2 separate regions of the Homo sapiens genome follow, and region 2 is linked to region 1. A link means that fine-mapping ties the variant in region 1 to the expression of a gene that starts in the linked region. Tissue or cell type: tibial artery. Region 1 holds a variant in brackets; the other region holds the start of a gene. All regions are shown on one strand. Distances are from middle to middle.

Region 1 (8,000 bases):
GACATCTTTCAATGCCAGCACATTTCAGTTTATTCTTTCTCTAGTATACATTTCTGCTTAGGATTCCAACAGTAGCCAATAGACTGGATTCCTACAGGTGGAGGTAAGTCAGGGAACCCTGCCTTTTTTTTTTTTTTTTTTTTTTGAGACAGAATCTCACTCTGTCACCCAGGCTGGAGTGCAGTGGCACGATCTTGGCTCACTGCAAGCTCCGCCTCCCGGGTTCATGCCATTCTCCTGCCTCAGCCTCCCGAGTAGCTAAGACTACAGGCGCCCACCACCACGCCCAGCTAATTTTTTTTTTTTTTTTGTATTTTTAGTAGAGACGGGGTTTCACTGTGTTAGCCAGGGTGGTCTCGATCTCCTGACCTCATGATCCGCCTGTCTCGGCCTCCCAAAATGCTGGGATTACAGGCTTGAGCCACCACGCCTGGCCGAAACCCTGCCTTTTTATCTCTAAAATCTAAAGGCTATTTGTTTTTGCGGTCATAGCTATTCTCATCTGTCCTTCCGGTCCCACTGCAGGTGCTTTTTTGCTTCCCTCTCTCTCAGTTTACTTCCCAAGGTTGCTAACTCTACTCCAGATTTGTAAGTGGTAGTGCTACTGTCCTAGTTATTGTCAGGACTCCAGAGGTCATTTCCTAGAACGTTGCAGAGATAGACAGAGATGGCTGAGGCTGAAGTGGAAGCACCAGCAGATGGAGAGAGGCCTGACTACCTCTTAAATTGTGCTAAGCCTCCTAACTGAAAATATCAGAATGCCTTTTTTTATGAGGACATTTTTTAAATTTAATATTACTGTTAGGTTTGCTTTAGTCTTTTTTTTTATTTTAAAGAGTTCGTTTTTACTTCTCCCACTTTCTAGTTTTTTTAAAAAGGGAGGGAGAAGGAAGGAATAAAAATATCAATTTCTGTCCCGTCACATAATGGAACAGAAATATACATCATTGTGTAGCAATTTCTAAGTTAATTAACTGTTTTTAATGTCAATATTCGAGGGTTGACCTAGATAACAACCACAGATGACAACCAGGCATCTATTGTGCACTTACTGTGGAGTCCCTAGGTCCTTTTTGTATGCAGAAGCAGCCTGGAGTTGTGGAAAGAGGTAGAGGAGTGTGAGGGGTCAGGAGACCTGGGATCTAATTGGCTCTACTCTCCAGAGAGGCGGTGGACCAGTCATGAACCTTTCATGCCCCAATCTTTAAAACAAGCTGCTGGACTAGGTAATTCTGAAGATGCCTTCAGATGGTCTCTCATTTTCAATTCGACCATTGGATTTGAGTTTGCATAGTCTGTGTTGTCCAGCATAATCCAGGATGGATTTCATCATGAGGTGGTTGAGGAAGAACAACAGTTAAGAAATGGATTTTACTCTTGGTTTTGATAGACACCCATCTGTACCTTGGGCAGGTACTGGGGGCATCATTTGTCTGTAAAATGAAGATACTGACCCAGATCCATGGTTCCTAACTAGGGATGCACATCAGAGTCACATATGGAGTTTTGTAGAAATGTACACGTCCAGATTCAGCCCCTAGAGATTGCGATTCACTAGGGGTGTTATGGGGACCAGTTGTATATTTTTAAAAACACACCACAGGGATTCTGAGGCATTCCTCTTATTGAGAAGAAGTTTAACTTGGCAATATTTGACAAATACTTGACTGTCACCCCTGCCCATTGCCCTGTTTGCCTGTGAAACCCTCCCTGCTGTGGGTATGTTGGTTCTTGGCCTCACTTTGCTCAGCAGCCTGTGTCTTCCTCCTCAGTAACAACCTGCAGTGTTTCACTGTGCGGTGCAGTGCGGCGGCAGCTCGTGAGGAGGACCCGTACATGGACACCACCCTGAAGGTAAGAACTGGCTTATGAAGATAGTGAAACCTTAAGATCACAAGGGAGCACATGAATACTCGTAGATTTGCTCTCAGACCTAAGCTAGGCAAGAACAAAAGAGCTTAAGGTTGTCTAATGTATTGAATTAGAACTTTTGGATGTAAAATAGTGAGGATTTTGTGATTCATGGCTTAGTTGACAGTTTTTAAGATTGCTTTGCAAACATTTCACTCCGAATTGATTTAGTGCATAGTTTTTAAAGTTTGGTAAAGAATATAAAAAGTGTGAACTGAGAGCAGTTCACAACTACTGTATGCTACAATTTTATTTTTTATTTTTTTGATTTTAACTTTTAATTTTTTCGAGGCAGGGTCTTGCTCTGTCACCCAGGCTGGAGGGCAGTGGCAAAGTCATAGATCACTGCAGCCTCGAACTCCTGGACTCAAGTGATCCTGCCACCTCAGCCCCTCAAGTAGCTGGGACTACAGGTGTGCACCACCATGCCCTGCTGATTCTTTTTGTATTATTATTATTATTATTATTTTTTTTTCTGCAGAGACAGGTTTTGCCGTGTCGCCCAGGCTGGTCTTGAACTTCTGGGCCCAAGCGATCTGCCTGCCTCAGCCTCCCAAAATGGTGGGATTACAGGCATGAACCACCATGCCTGGCCCAATTGTATTTTACTAAATGGAAATACTGGTGGCAGTTTTACAGAGCTGTTAACAAAACAGTCCAGAAATCAATATACTTAAGAGCACAAAATTGAATACGATGCATTAAAATGATTTATTTATACTATTATCAGCTATGCCTGTAATTCTGTATTTTATAAGCCTTTGATAACCTTCTATACTTAATCGAAGAGTTAATGGTTATGGTAGATCAATAATCTCATTTTTAGTGAGAAGTAAAGTGCTTGGTTTCTAAAAAAAAAAAAAAAAAAAAAAAAAAAAAGCCTCTTGACCACAGAATAAATGTAGGCATTATTATGTTGAGATTCGGTGTTTTCTGACTTTGAATTTCTGTTCTCAGAAATACACTGATCATTTACATTATATTGATCTATGTTATTTTACTTCTGAAGTATAAGCTATTTGAATTGGATATTTGTTAGGAATATACATGCTGCAAGAAGCTCCCAAATTATCATGCTCTGTGTTTCAAAAATTGGTTTATATCTGTCTGGAAACTGGAATACCTTTTTCCAGAAGGATAAGCCTTCAGTAATGGTGGTTATCTTAACAAGCCAGCCCCGACTTAGTGCCTAATGTGTCTGAGATACTCTTTCACGGTCACTGTCACCCAAACTGTGTCATATGATAGTGTTTTATGGCAAGCATGGTCTCTGAGTTCCTAGTGACCCTTTTTAATGGCCTGCCTGTGGTTTTCTGTTGCTGACCAGGCTTACTGCCTGCTGTCAGCCTCTTGGGAAACCAGAACCACAGATTTCCTGTGCCTTTGTTTGTATAAGATACACACATGGCCTTTTTGAGAGATTACTTTAAAATCAGGATTATTTCCTTTGTAAAAATAGAAAAGTAACAGATTAAAAAAATAAAACTTCCATTCTTTGTCCTCTTCTTTCCCCTCCTTGCGTTTTCAAACCTCAGAAAGACATAGGCTTATATAGGGGTGATGGTGTAATTTAAAGTACCTAATAGATTGAAGTAGGATCAATGTACCTTTGGAAAAAAAATAATTCCATGTATTTTCAGAGTCTTATAAAAG[G/A]CAGAATGAAGGAACAAGGAAGAGACAAAGGGGAGGGATAAGGAGAGGTGGGCATCTGGTGGAGGTATGCTGCCCTTGAGGCCAGTGGAGGTAGGAGGGGGAAGGCATAATCACACCTCACGGTTCCTCCTTTCCTGGGACTCCACCAGTTCTGAAGCCCTAGGTGCCAGTTAAACAAGCACACGTTTAGCCCACCTGCTGACTCAGGCTTTGGAGCTGTGATGTCTGAAAAAAGTTTCACAACCTCAAGAGTCTGGTTGAAAGTGCTTGTGGTCTGTCTCCTTTTCCTCTGAGATTCTGACTCCTCAGCACTAACCAAGCCACCTTAACTATTTTTACATGGAGGTAACAATGAAGATGACCTCAGAATCAAAACAGCATGCATGGACAAGAAGGCAGGGTCCTGGCAGCATCATTTTGTGAGCTCCCAGAATAGAGCTCTTCCATTAGTTTTCTTATTCATTCTACTTGAATTAATGGTCCTTTACAAGAGCAAAAGGCTGGCTCCTCTAGTTTACCTGACATGTCCCAGCCTGTCCGCCATTCCAGGCACTATTCGTACCTAACAGACTAACAGTCAGGGGCCATCGGAACATACAAGCATTTCTTTCACACACACATCCGCAAAGAAACCATTTTATGTACTCTACAAGCAGTAGAATGTCCTTTCATAGTGTCTGGTTTTTCCTAAAAACCCCATTTGGGCGTACCCCCAACCATCCTGCTAGTTGTGGGGGTTTCCCTGGGTGGCAGAGTACCAGCTTCATCTCCTGGAGGTATCTGTGGAGCCACTCTGTGGGGCACACACACAAGTTCCTGCAGCTGTGGGACCCTCTTTCCGTATTTATTCAATCAATCAATAACTGAGTTTGTTGGCTGAGTAGCTCTATGGAATACACTATTGGTTACATAGGTTTAGATAACCTCTTCTGTTAAGAATAGGAATCTGGGTTGGTCTTTTGTTTGTTTGTTTGTTTTTTGGTGGTGGTGGGTATGGGATGGTGGCAGCAGAAGAGATTTGATCAAATAAACTGACTGATTTTTGAAGATTGAAGTGCATGTACCTTTATTTCTTGCTTAAATATGTGATTTTCCTTTACTAGGCTTGCCCACCTGTCAGTATGGATGTCTGTGCTTTAAGAATACAGCTTTTCATAGGCTTGAAAGCCATCTGTCACTTTAAAAACCACATCATACTTTTGACTAAAGCAGAACCTGAAGCCATTCCAGAGAGAAGACAGTCACCCAAGAGGCTTCTGTAAGCATCCCCTTGCCCCAGGCATTCCTGCCAGTTTCTGGAATGAGTTGTAACTGGTATATTTTGTGTTTATCTTTTTTCAAATCATAACTTGGAATGATCAAATGGCTTTTTTATGGTGGTCTTTTTCCAGAGAAAGAAAAGAAGGTTCTAACAATCTCTGTAATACACTTTATAACTGACCTGGAAACTTTTAGGAGAAAATGGATTATAAAATAGTTTCAGTAAAAATCAAAGGTGTTTTAGATTAGTTAAAGGCCATGCTTTTCTGTGTAATTAATGAGAAAGACTGAGCCTATAATGCTAATTGAAACTACAGGACTTTTTACTGTCTTTCTTCTTTGACCCTTTCAGTTGTTACATTTTTATCTAAAATTATTTTCTGATATTATGAAAGAAATTAATAATGTATGTCTTACCTTAAAGCACATTTATGATCTATAGATATGTGCTCATGTATCTGAAAATAAAGTTGTATTTTGATAACATTCATCTCTTGTTATTTATTAGGTTTCTGCTTTCCCATTGTTTAGAATAGAATGCTTAATTCCAGACTAGTTATGCTTCTATTTGATGTTTTCCTACTTAGTGGTAGAGAATGCAATCTAATTTCTCTAAGGAAAATTTAATCAAGAAAGAAATCTCTTCAGGGAGTGAAGCATATAGTGTATTTCATATCAAACATGGGTTATTTTTAACATAGATTTTTACTTTTTCAAATTGTTAGTGGCTGTGCTTTGTTGCATCAACAGGAATCAGAGGTTGACTTTGGTAACTGATCACTTTGAGTGTACACAGAGTGGTCTGGGGCTGACTGATCCTAAAAGCTTTCTGGGGAGAGGAAAAGCAGTTTGTAGTCTTGCACATTTGACATTCTAATAGTATAATTTTTTAAATGATGTTTTAAAAATTCTAATTCATTTGAAAATTCATTTGATAAACAATTATAAAAGATTGTACACTAAAGAAAATGTATCACATAGTGAAAGCAAGAGATAAGATAGTGCTTTAAGCAGACTTAACAGTTTTATGTGTCTTCATCATATTCTCAGCAGCCATGATGTTGCTTCTGCTTAGATTTGTGGCTCAGGGCATGCTAGACTCATGAAAGTCAAATGCAGAAAAGAGCCTGGGTATAGGGACTTCCGCAGTCAAGGATCTTTTCCTCTTGATGGGACTTGCCTGTTCTTTGAACTTACTGCTCATTTGAGAATACTTGCAGAGTGAATTGGAAGCAGTTGGTTTATCATTACATGAAAATTACAGAATATTAAATGCAGTTAGCCTATGTAGTATTGTGAACTAATATTCCATAGAAATAGAGTGTACAGTTAATCACTGAGGAAAATAGTAAATGAAAATGATTTTATAGTTATTTTATATCCAATATTTACCATTTACAACTACCATTTATTAATAATGTCATTTTAAAATTCTTGTCCTTTGTTTTGCTTTTAGTTCGAGAAAAGATACCAGTGTTAAAATCAAAATACCTCCTGTAGCTGAGGCTGGGTGGAATTTGTATATTGTGAATACGATCTCACCAGTGCAGCTGTACAAAGAGATGGTACTCTTTTCAAACTTCTGATTCTTGTTTGTAGATATTTAGAGTGAAATTAATGATCAGAAATTGATTCTAATTATCATACATTCAGGATGCCACAGCCATTCAGCTTCCTGGCTCTGTCTGACAGTGGAATGTATATCTCTCTCTGCCTCCTCATTGTTACAGCTTCTGACATCCGAGGAACCAGTAGAAATTCCCTTCACTAGCATAAGACTCCCTTATTCATACCCACTCTCCTAAGAAGATCGATTGGCCAATCTGAACATAGTCTTTGACCTTAATTTGAACTCTAGCAAAGATAGCTAAGAAATGGAGCAAATAAATAAATAAATAAATAAATCTAGGATTATGTATCCCTGTCCCACTCTTCTTATTTAGAAATGTTAGCACATTGTCCCAGGGCACCACAGCTACTGCAGCATTGTCCTGGGGGGAGGGACCCAGAGGGAGCATCCTTACTGATCTAAGAGTGACAGCTTCCTACTCATCCCTGGCAATTATTTTAACTCTTTATTTTGAAACAATTTCAAACTTACAGAAAAGTTGCAAGAATAAGTATATTCTTCCCAACCCTTTGGGAGGCTGAGGCAGGTGAGTTGCTTGAGGCCAGGAGTTCGAGACTAGCCTGGGTAACATAGTGAGATCCCATCTGTACAAAAAATTAAAAAATTAGCCAGTTGTGGTGGCACATACCTGTAGTCCTAGCTACTTTGGAAGCTAAGATGGGAAGATCACTTGAGCCCAGGAGTTCAAGGCCACAATGAGCTATGGTCGTACCACTGCACTCCAGCTTGGGTGACACAGCAAGACCCTGACTCTTTTGACTCTTTTTTAAAAAAGAAGAATATTCTATATATTCCCATTCCCCACACAGATTTCTCCACAGTCAACATTTTACCCTATTTGCTTCTCTCTCTCTTTTATGCACTCTGTGCTTTCTGTGCACACAGATATACATACACTGTTTTCTGATTCTTCTTCGGGAGGTAAACTGCATACATCAGTCTTTTGCCCCTAAGTACTTCAGCGTATATTTTCTAAGAATAAGGATACTCTCTTGCATACCAGAATACAGTAGTATGCTTTAATAAATTTAACATTGACACAGTGCTTTATCTGGTTTATGGTTCATAGTCTAATTTTGTCAACTGACCCAATGGCTTGATAGCATTTCCCCTTCTCCAGTTCAAGACCCAGTCTAGGATCAGGTAGTGTGTTTAACTATGATGTCTCTTTAGCCTCCTTTGAAGCTGGAATATTTCTATAGCCTTTCATTATGTTTTATGACATGAGCATTTTTGAAAAATATAATTTTCCCCTCTACTTTTTTTTTGAGAGTATTCCTTATTTAGGGTTTGCTTTTTTTTTTTTAATGGTTAGATTCAGATTATGCATTTTCAGCCAGAATATTGCATAGGTGATTTTTGTGTTAAGGGTATCACATCTGGAGGCACATGCTGTTCATCTACCCCTCTTTGGTGATGTTAATTTTTGGTCATCAGGTCAAGGTGTTGCCTGATTTGTCCCTGCCAATAATTTAATGCCAATTATTATATTAGCTGTGCCCTGTCTTTTCAGTCTTGCTTAATTGAAAGTCTTCGTTTAGGTGAT
Region 2 (8,197 bases), 160 kb before region 1:
CCCAGCCCCAGGATGCCCCCAAAGCCAGAGAGTATGGACGCAGTAGCACTGGGGGATCCCTCCCCAGTCCCTGGAGAGGGCCCCCCACCACTGCTCCTCCGGCTTCCACTGCCAGCATCCGAAGAGGCACTGTCAGAGGTGGAGGGCTGGGTAGGGGTGGTGGGTGAAGCAGGCGTGGTGGAGGGTGCTGAGGCAGGGTCAGGTGTGGAGGGGGAAGAAGCAGTGGCAGCAGCTGGATCTTGAGCCTTCTGAGGGGTCTTGATGACCAGATGGACAGTGAGCCCGTCCTTGATTCCGTGCTGGTTCAGTGTGTCCCCATCCTTGAGGATCTTGCCTGACAAGATCAGGACCAGCTGATCCTGCTGAGCCTTAAACCTCCGGGAGATTTCCTCTTTGAACTCCTTGACCGAGGCTCGATCGCAGATCACAATTTCCTCCTTGTCCTTGGGGGTCTTGACGGTGACCCGAATGGGGGGCCTCGTCTCGGCCCCGCTCGGCTCCGCCATGCCGCCGCCGCCACCCGGCCGCCCGCCAGCCCGCCCGGCTCCTCCTCCTCCCCGCTCGCCCGGCCGGCCCGGCTCGGCTTCTGCCATTTTTTTTCTTTTTTTTGAGACAAAGTCTCACCCTGTCACCCAGGCTGGAGAGCAGTGGCGCAATCTTGCCTCACTGCAACCCCTCCCGTGTTCAAGCGATTCTCCTGCTTCAGCCTCCTGAGTAACTGGGATTATAGGTGTGTGCCACTATGCCCGGCTAATTTTTGTATTTTTAGTAGAGATGGTGTTTCGCCATGTTAGCCAGGCTGGTCTTGAACTCCTGACCTCAGGTGATCTGCCTGCCTCAGCCTCCCAAAGTGCTGCAATAGAGACGTGAGCCACTGCACCTGGCCAAGAAATGAAATATTGATACGTTTCACAACATGGAAGAACTTTGAAAACATTATGCTAAATGAAAGAAACCAGTTACACAAGACAACATATAGGTAAATCTCAATAGACAAATGTTTAGACAGAAAGTAGATTAGTAGTTGCCCAGGACTGAGGGAAAGAAGAAGAGAGTAAGGAGTGACTGCTAATGGGTACAGATTTCTTTTGGGTTGATGAAATTGTTCTAAACTTAGATTGTGGTAATAGTTGTACAACTCTGTGAATACACTAAAAACCATTTAGGTATACACTTTAATTCAGCACAAGTGGCTGAATTTTACACAATGTGAGTTATGTAACAATAAGGATTAAAAAAAAAAGCTATGTAACCAGCCATCAGGCTACTGCAACTTTTGGAGTTTGGGACTCTAGCTTTCAAGTGAAGAACGGACTACTTTGGGCCTCCAAGGATATTATTTCTTGAAACCAAACTTTTGCTTGATATTGTGATTACCGACAACAATCCCAGGTACAGATTGTGTATGTTATCAATTAAGGGCAAAATTTTAAGTTAGTTGACTAGTTAGTTCCTGTGTCTGGCCAGATGTGGTATATGTATTTCACAAACTTTCCGTGGGAACCATTTGATTCTCAGGCGAGTAGGTTGCCCTCTGCTCCGGAATATATTTCCAGGTCAGTTGCCCCCACCATCAATTAGTGTGTGTGCTCAAAAGAATGCAAACTGATTTCAGCATTATCTTAAACAAAACTTAATTAGGAAGGTAAGTATCCTGCCAAAAAAATTACATAATGCATTACAAAGCCAATTTAAAATGAATTTTGGACCATTCCGAATATATGAATTCAGCATAGGTTTAAATGGTTAATAGTCATGCCTACTGATGTAGGGTATAACTTATCTTTTTTAACTTAAATCTTTCTTTTAGGATTCTGTAATTTTACTAGTTCAAGTTTCACAAGAAAAAAAATAACAAGCTAAAATCTGAAACATTTGCCTCACTATACCATGTTTATCCACTACCTCTAAGGCCTTACAATCCAAAATGTTTGAACACCTCACTATTCAAAGTGTGGGTCCATAGCCTGGGGATCACCTGGGAGACCCACCCCCAAACTACTGAGTCAGAATCCGCATTTTAATAAGATCCTTGGGCAATCTGTGTGCGCATTAAAGTTTGAGAGGTCTTGCTCTCACACCAGACTGAAGCTCACTGCAGGGCAGCCTCAGGAAAAGTAGGCAGTGGGGTCATTATGATCTATATTAAGACAATGAAGAAGAACAGATTGTAGCAACCTCAAAATGTCCCTATTTGATTCAAAGTGGTAAAAGCTGTAAACTTTCTATTTGTGTAAATATACATGAAGCTCAGGAAGGGAAGCTGTGGTAACCGTTCCTTTTACTTAAACGTCCTGGGAGTTGCAGCAGAGAGGAGCTTGTTCTAAGGGAAGCTTTTCTGTTTTTCCCAGTTGTCCCCAGTTCTACCTCCTGGCTTTGCCCTTTCAGCCCCATCACCACATCCCTGGCTAAGTCCAGCCTGAGATAGTAGGCTGCAAGAAGTAGATGGTTAAGGGTCAGCTGATGGCAGGAGGGTTCTGGGTGAAAGATGGAAATCTCACTCTTCCAAGTTCACCTCTCAGTCTGCAAAAGAGCAATCAGACTGAGAAGTACCTCTCTTTGTTTTCCCTCTCCCCACTTAAGATACAAAAGTGTAGCCTTTGTGTTCCTTAAAGAGCTCCAACTCTTCTATGTCTATATCTTTTGAATAAGTGGAAACCCATCTATTGCCCTTTCCACTTTTCTGTTTCCTACAACGGAAGCACATAATGCCAAGTAACTGGGAGGGCCTCCCATGTGATCAGCGGTCTCTAGGCCATGGTCAAGACTAGGAAGGACTCAAGAGAGGCTCCTGGAAGGTGATATTTAAAATACTGATTTTAAGGTTCTACCCTTAAGATTCTTTTTGTTTTGTAACCTGTTTTTCTTCAAATAATATATTTTGAACAGCTTTTTATATTAAAAATATATAATGATTATGCCTACAGAGTATTTCATTACCTCAAGAGTATATGACGCGACTTCAAAAAGTCCATAGAATATACATATTATAAAAAAAAAATGCATGGATTTCAAAATTATTTTGCACCAAAATAAACCTACCCTTAAGATTCTGATTCAGGAGGTCTGGGCTTAGGCCCAAAAATCTACGCTTTAACCAGTGCCCCCAAGTGATTCTGATGTAGGAGATCCACACCCACACACGAGGAAACAGTGATATAACTGGTTTGAGGACAGCAGTACCACCTTTGCAAATAAATCACTTATTCTTAAGCATCTGTTTTGCTTTTTGAACTGATGTCAACTTCCTGATTGGTTTCCAAATGGCTTTGCAGTACTCATTCAACATTTACCGAGCAATTTCAGTTTTCAGTTTGCAGAGAACTGAACTACCCGAGGCTTGTTCTGTGTTTGGACTGGGGATGGGGAGCAGAGAAGGATGTGATCACATTAAAGCTATTTCTCAACTTCCTAGAAAAATGACAAATTGACCATTTCAAGATTTGTGAAACAGGTTAGCATTGGCTAACCACAGTTACAATAATTTACTAACCTTTTTGGAGCCCCTGTGTACAAGAGGCACCAAGACTTTCTGGGTGGGAAGGTTGATTCTGTAACCAAACTGCCAGGGTTTAAATCCTACTTTCTCCATTTATATTATATGACTATAGAAAAGTTAGCACTTTGGGAGGCTAAGGCTGGCAGATCACTTGAGGCCAGGAGTTCCAGACCAGGCTGGCCAACATGGTGAAACTCTGTCTCTACTAAAAATACAAGAAAAAAAAGAAAAGAAAAGTTAATTTAACTTTTCTGAGCTCAGTTTCCTCCTCGTCTGTAAAATGAATATGTAACACCTCACTGAGTTCGTACAAGGATTAAATGAAGCACTTAAATGCCTAATTGATGCAGATGGCTCCAAGAATTTAACATTTACGAAATATTCACTATATTTTTTAGGTTAAGGGTACAAAACCATTGTGAGTACACTAAGGAATGATTATAGAGGCTGATCGAAATTCTGCAAAAAAAGCGTAAATTTTACGTTTCATTCAAGCAGTTCAGACTCACGATTTTAACTAGAGTAATCTGGGGTTTGTTTGCTTGTTTTTTAAGGTTCCCTAACCCTTGGCTTCTTGGGGAGTTTGATGCCGCACTCAGCCCCAAAGTCCCCCTTAACTCCCAGGTTTAGCGGCGACAGGGGGCGCGCGGTTGACAAGGGCAGGCGCCCCGGGGAAGTAGGAGCAGGGGCGCCGGTGAGCCGCAGCCGCAGCGGCAGCCTAGCCCCGAGGGAGGGAGGAGGAGCCGAGGGAGACGCGGGACCCGGAGCCCCGCGGGCCACCGCCCCTGCCGGCCGCGCAGCTGGGAGGATGCGGACGGCAGCGAGAGCGTGCGCGGCCACGTGACGGCCGCTATAAGAGCGCACGGGGCAGACGCTCGGTTCCCCGCCGTGCCTCCTCGCTGGCCGCGCTCCCTCCCGGTGCCGGCTTCTCTGAGTCACCAACCTGAGGCTGCCCCGGCCGCCTGCGCACCCGGCAGCACCATGACAGGTACCGCCGCGCAGCCCGCCGCCGCCAGCCCCGGGACCCCGGCTTCCTGCCCAGCCGCCGCCTCCCTTCTCCTCCGCCCTCAGCCCCGGAGTGTTCCCGGCAGGACGAAACCGCCGCAAAGTTGCTGGCTGGCCGCAGCCGGGCGTGTTTCTGCCTGCGTCAGCTGCCGCCCCGCCGCCCCCCAGAGTGCAGGGATGGGGCAGCCGGGCAGAGCCCGGGCCCTCGGCCGGAGCTCTCGTTCCTGCTTCCGTCTCCTCGTCCTTCCTCTTGCTCTCACGGCGAAGGGCCGGCGGGCGGAGCAGCTGCGGCGGGGCCGTGTGGGGGTGGGGAGCCGGTTCCCCTGGGGGTTCCAGGCGGGAGTCCGGGGCGCAGCGGCATCGTGGGGAGCTGCCCCGGCCTCTGGCGGCCCGGAACCCCAGGAAGCAGGGGCTCCGAGGCGGGGATACTGCGGCCTCCGCCCGGCTCCTCCGCCGCCCGCCCCGGCCCCGGCCGCCACGCTGAGCCTATTTTTAGGCCTTTGGGGCCGGGTTGCGGGAAGCCGGGAGTCGGACTAGCGTCCCCGGGCGCGAGCCCCGTCTGGTGGGAGGGCGCCGGCTTTGGCTTCACTTGTTGCGAGGCGTCCGGGCCACTCCACGAGTTAGCCCCAGCACTGGGAAGCTCCGAGTTAGCTGGTCCTTCCGTGTCATTGAGGCTAATAGCCAGGGTTATTACAGCAGTTGAACTGCCACAAAGATTGCAGGTGTAACCCAGAGTTCAGCCGTCTTTAGGAAGATTAAACTCCTACCCAGCTGTCATTGGTCTTTCTTGGTCATTTGTAATGTTGGCTAGTCTGGTGTTCTAACCTGTGTTCTATCCCTTATTTAATCTTGGAAATCATCCATATCCTTGCTTCCAGAAATCCTTGAATCCTGCTCACCTTATTACATTTTTCTCCATGATCGCCTGGAACCTGGACTTCATTTGAGTTAGATGATCATTCATTTTGCCTAGCTTAAGTATTTTTGGTACAGATTGACAGCGATGTTACCCATGTTATAATGGGCTGAAGATAATAGAAGCAAGTACAGGCGGATGTTGATGGGCCTGTCAAGGGACAGGTGCCACTGTTCAGAGCTTTCCTAGAGTGTGAGTGACTGGGAAGCTGGTGGCCCTTCGGGGGTGGGGAACTGGTCTTCCTACAACTTAGTAGTTGGCCTGCCGTGGGAGAGGGCCTAATAAAATGTGTGAAGATGGCTCTCAGGTCAGCAGCCGAGGGATGCGCTGGCCCACTAGGCAACCCACAACTTCCTCTCATGTCTCGGTGGAATTTCTACTGCTTCCAGCCTCCACCTTGGAAAACGGGCAAGGGAGAATGAGGGAAAGCCAGGTCAGAAAGAGAAGGACTTCATGACAAAATGTCCCAACTCGCTGGTTAAGCAACTGACTCCTACCAGAACTTGATCCGAAGTGTCCTATGCATTTGGATGCCCACCAACTTGCTAATGTTTCTTGGAGATGGAACATGGCCCAGAATTGTCCCAGGGAATGACTGGAGAAATCTTGAAGCCTGTGCTAGGGGTCTTGGGAGGGTGGGGACTGTTCAGCAGGAGGAAAAATCCATGTATTTACCTTCTCTTCTGGCAACTAAGTGATTATTGGAGATTGGGGTGCGTGTCTGTTGGTTTGGGCGGGGGGAGGGGGAGGGTGCAGGATGGACCTGCACCTTCTTCTCCAAAGAAAAGCAGGCAGTTGTTTAGGGCTTCTTGGGTGATCTCCAAATCTATTTATCAGTGATTGATAACTATTTAGATAGAAGCATCAAGGAGGGAAAGCCTCTTTGAGGAGCTGATACTTGAGGAGAGACTCAATGTTATTTTTCAGGGATATTGGGGCAGGGGAGCTTTTGCTCCACGTTGAGGAAACAGTTATGTATAAGATGCCTGGAGTTCGAGGCTGCAGTGAGCTATGATCACACCACTCCACTCCAGCCTGGGTGGCCGAGTGAGACCCTGTCTTAAAAAATACATACATACATACATTCCTGAGGCATGGCATAAACGTAAGCACCAGAATGAAGAATATGGACTCTGCTTTCAGACTGACTGAATTGAGTTTGACGGTTGGTTTTGTGCTTGTCTGAAAACACTGTCTACAGTACCTTGTAGAAGAAACAGCAAATGTACTACTTGATCTCTTCATTACCATCTGTTAGTTGCCTGGAGTTCAAACTCTTGGTATTAAGCTATTGTTTTGTCTGAGAATTTAGCGTGTCGGATTTAATTTCTATAGCTTAATCAACCTGTTGAAGGTTGCCATATGTGCCTGCTATGATCTTGAACCATTCTTGAAGTGGGCACTTGGGGTTTTCTCCCCAAAGGGCTACAGCTTGATTCATAGAGAAAGTTGATGTTAGAGGAACTGGTTTTGCTGAATTACTGTTTGAATGGGTTCCTGGGGAAAAGGCTTTCTCCAGATAAGATACTGTAATGAGTGTTTTTTTTTTCTTTGTATTAAGATCAGGCCTTTGTGACACTAACCACAAACGATGCCTACGCCAAAGGTGCCCTGGTCCTGGGATCATCTCTGAAACAGCACAGGACCACCAGGAGGCTGGTCGTGCTCGCCACCCCTCAGGTCTCAGACTCCATGAGGTGAGGACCTCGCTGCCACCCCAGCATCCAAGGGGCTCTGACATCCTTCTCCCTGTTGCTGACATCATTGGACATTGAGGCCATGCTCTTTTCAGGAATTGAGCACCGGGTAGAGAAAAATGAGAGATGCTGAGTGCAGGATTGCTGTATTTGAAACCTCCTCCTAGCTTTTGGGAGATATTCCAACTCAATTCTTTTCTGGAAGGTGTTATGCTGGCCCACACTTTCTGGTTCCAACTAGGAGGGGAAAGAAGGAGTCGTCTTCCTTCACTCCATCCCCTCTGGGTGATCTGAAGGAGTGTGTCAGGCATTCCCTGCTTACATACACCTTTACACAGTCACAATTCATGGACATTCCTTTCCCAGGATGCAGCAGGGGCTACATTGTTTCATGTTGCAAACTAGGGAAACTCTCAGGTGACTTAGAAAAGTAGTTATTTTATCCATTGCCAGTTGATATTTGTAAGCTAAATATCTTTATTTACAATATAATACACTAGAATCTTTACCAAAGGGCTTTCCAAACTAGGTTTTACTAGGGGAAACACACTAAAGGGTATAAACTGCTTCATGATTGGTTAGTTCACTTTGATCCGATGGAATTAAGTTTTGAAGTATTTGGGCCAGGTGTGATGGCTCATGCCTGTAATCTCAGCACTGTGGGAGGCCAAGGCAGTTGGATCACCTGAGGTCAAGAGTTCCAGACCAGCCTGGCCAACATGGCGAAACCCGTCTCTACTAAAAATACAAAACCTCATCTCTACTAAAAATACAAAAATTAGCTAGGCATGGTGGCGCGTGCCTGTGATCCCAGCTACTTGGGGTTGGGGGCTGAGGCAGGAGAATCGCTTGAACCCGGGAGGCAGAGGTTGCAGTAAGCCGAGATTGTGCCACTGCACTCCAGCCAGGGCAACAGAGTGAGACTCTGTCTTAAAAAACAACAACAACAGAAAATCGAAGTATCTGAATGAGCTACCTAGTCTCTAGTAGTAACTTAAAAAATATCCGGGCACACTAGTAACTTTGTGATGTGTTTATTTTTCTGGTCTCCTGGCCCTCTAAGAAATTGAAAATGCCCTT

Evidence for each region. PIP is the estimated chance that this variant, and not a neighbour inherited with it, causes the effect.
Region 2: GYG1 starts here. The variant in region 1 is fine-mapped to the expression of GYG1 in tibial artery (GTEx, PIP 0.92).

What each region holds. Positions count from the first base shown.
Region 1 is chr3:149,148,827-149,156,826 of GRCh38, forward strand. It overlaps HPS3 (HPS3 biogenesis of lysosomal organelles complex 2 subunit 1), which reads left to right. Exons shown (of 17, transcript NM_032383.5): 6 at 1,773-1,854; 7 at 4,668-4,822; 8 at 6,281-6,389. Among named protein-coding and RNA genes, the nearest start is that of HPS3, 23 kb to the left of the region's middle. The variant G/A (reference allele first, on the strand shown) is at 3,565.
Region 2 is chr3:148,987,161-148,995,357 of GRCh38, forward strand. GYG1 (glycogenin 1) reads left to right here and starts at 4,380. Exons shown (of 8, transcript NM_004130.4): 1 at 4,380-4,487; 2 at 6,982-7,117. The coding sequence starts at 4,481. It also overlaps the pseudogene UBQLN4P1. RefSeq lists silencers at 4,019-5,068, 5,102-5,396.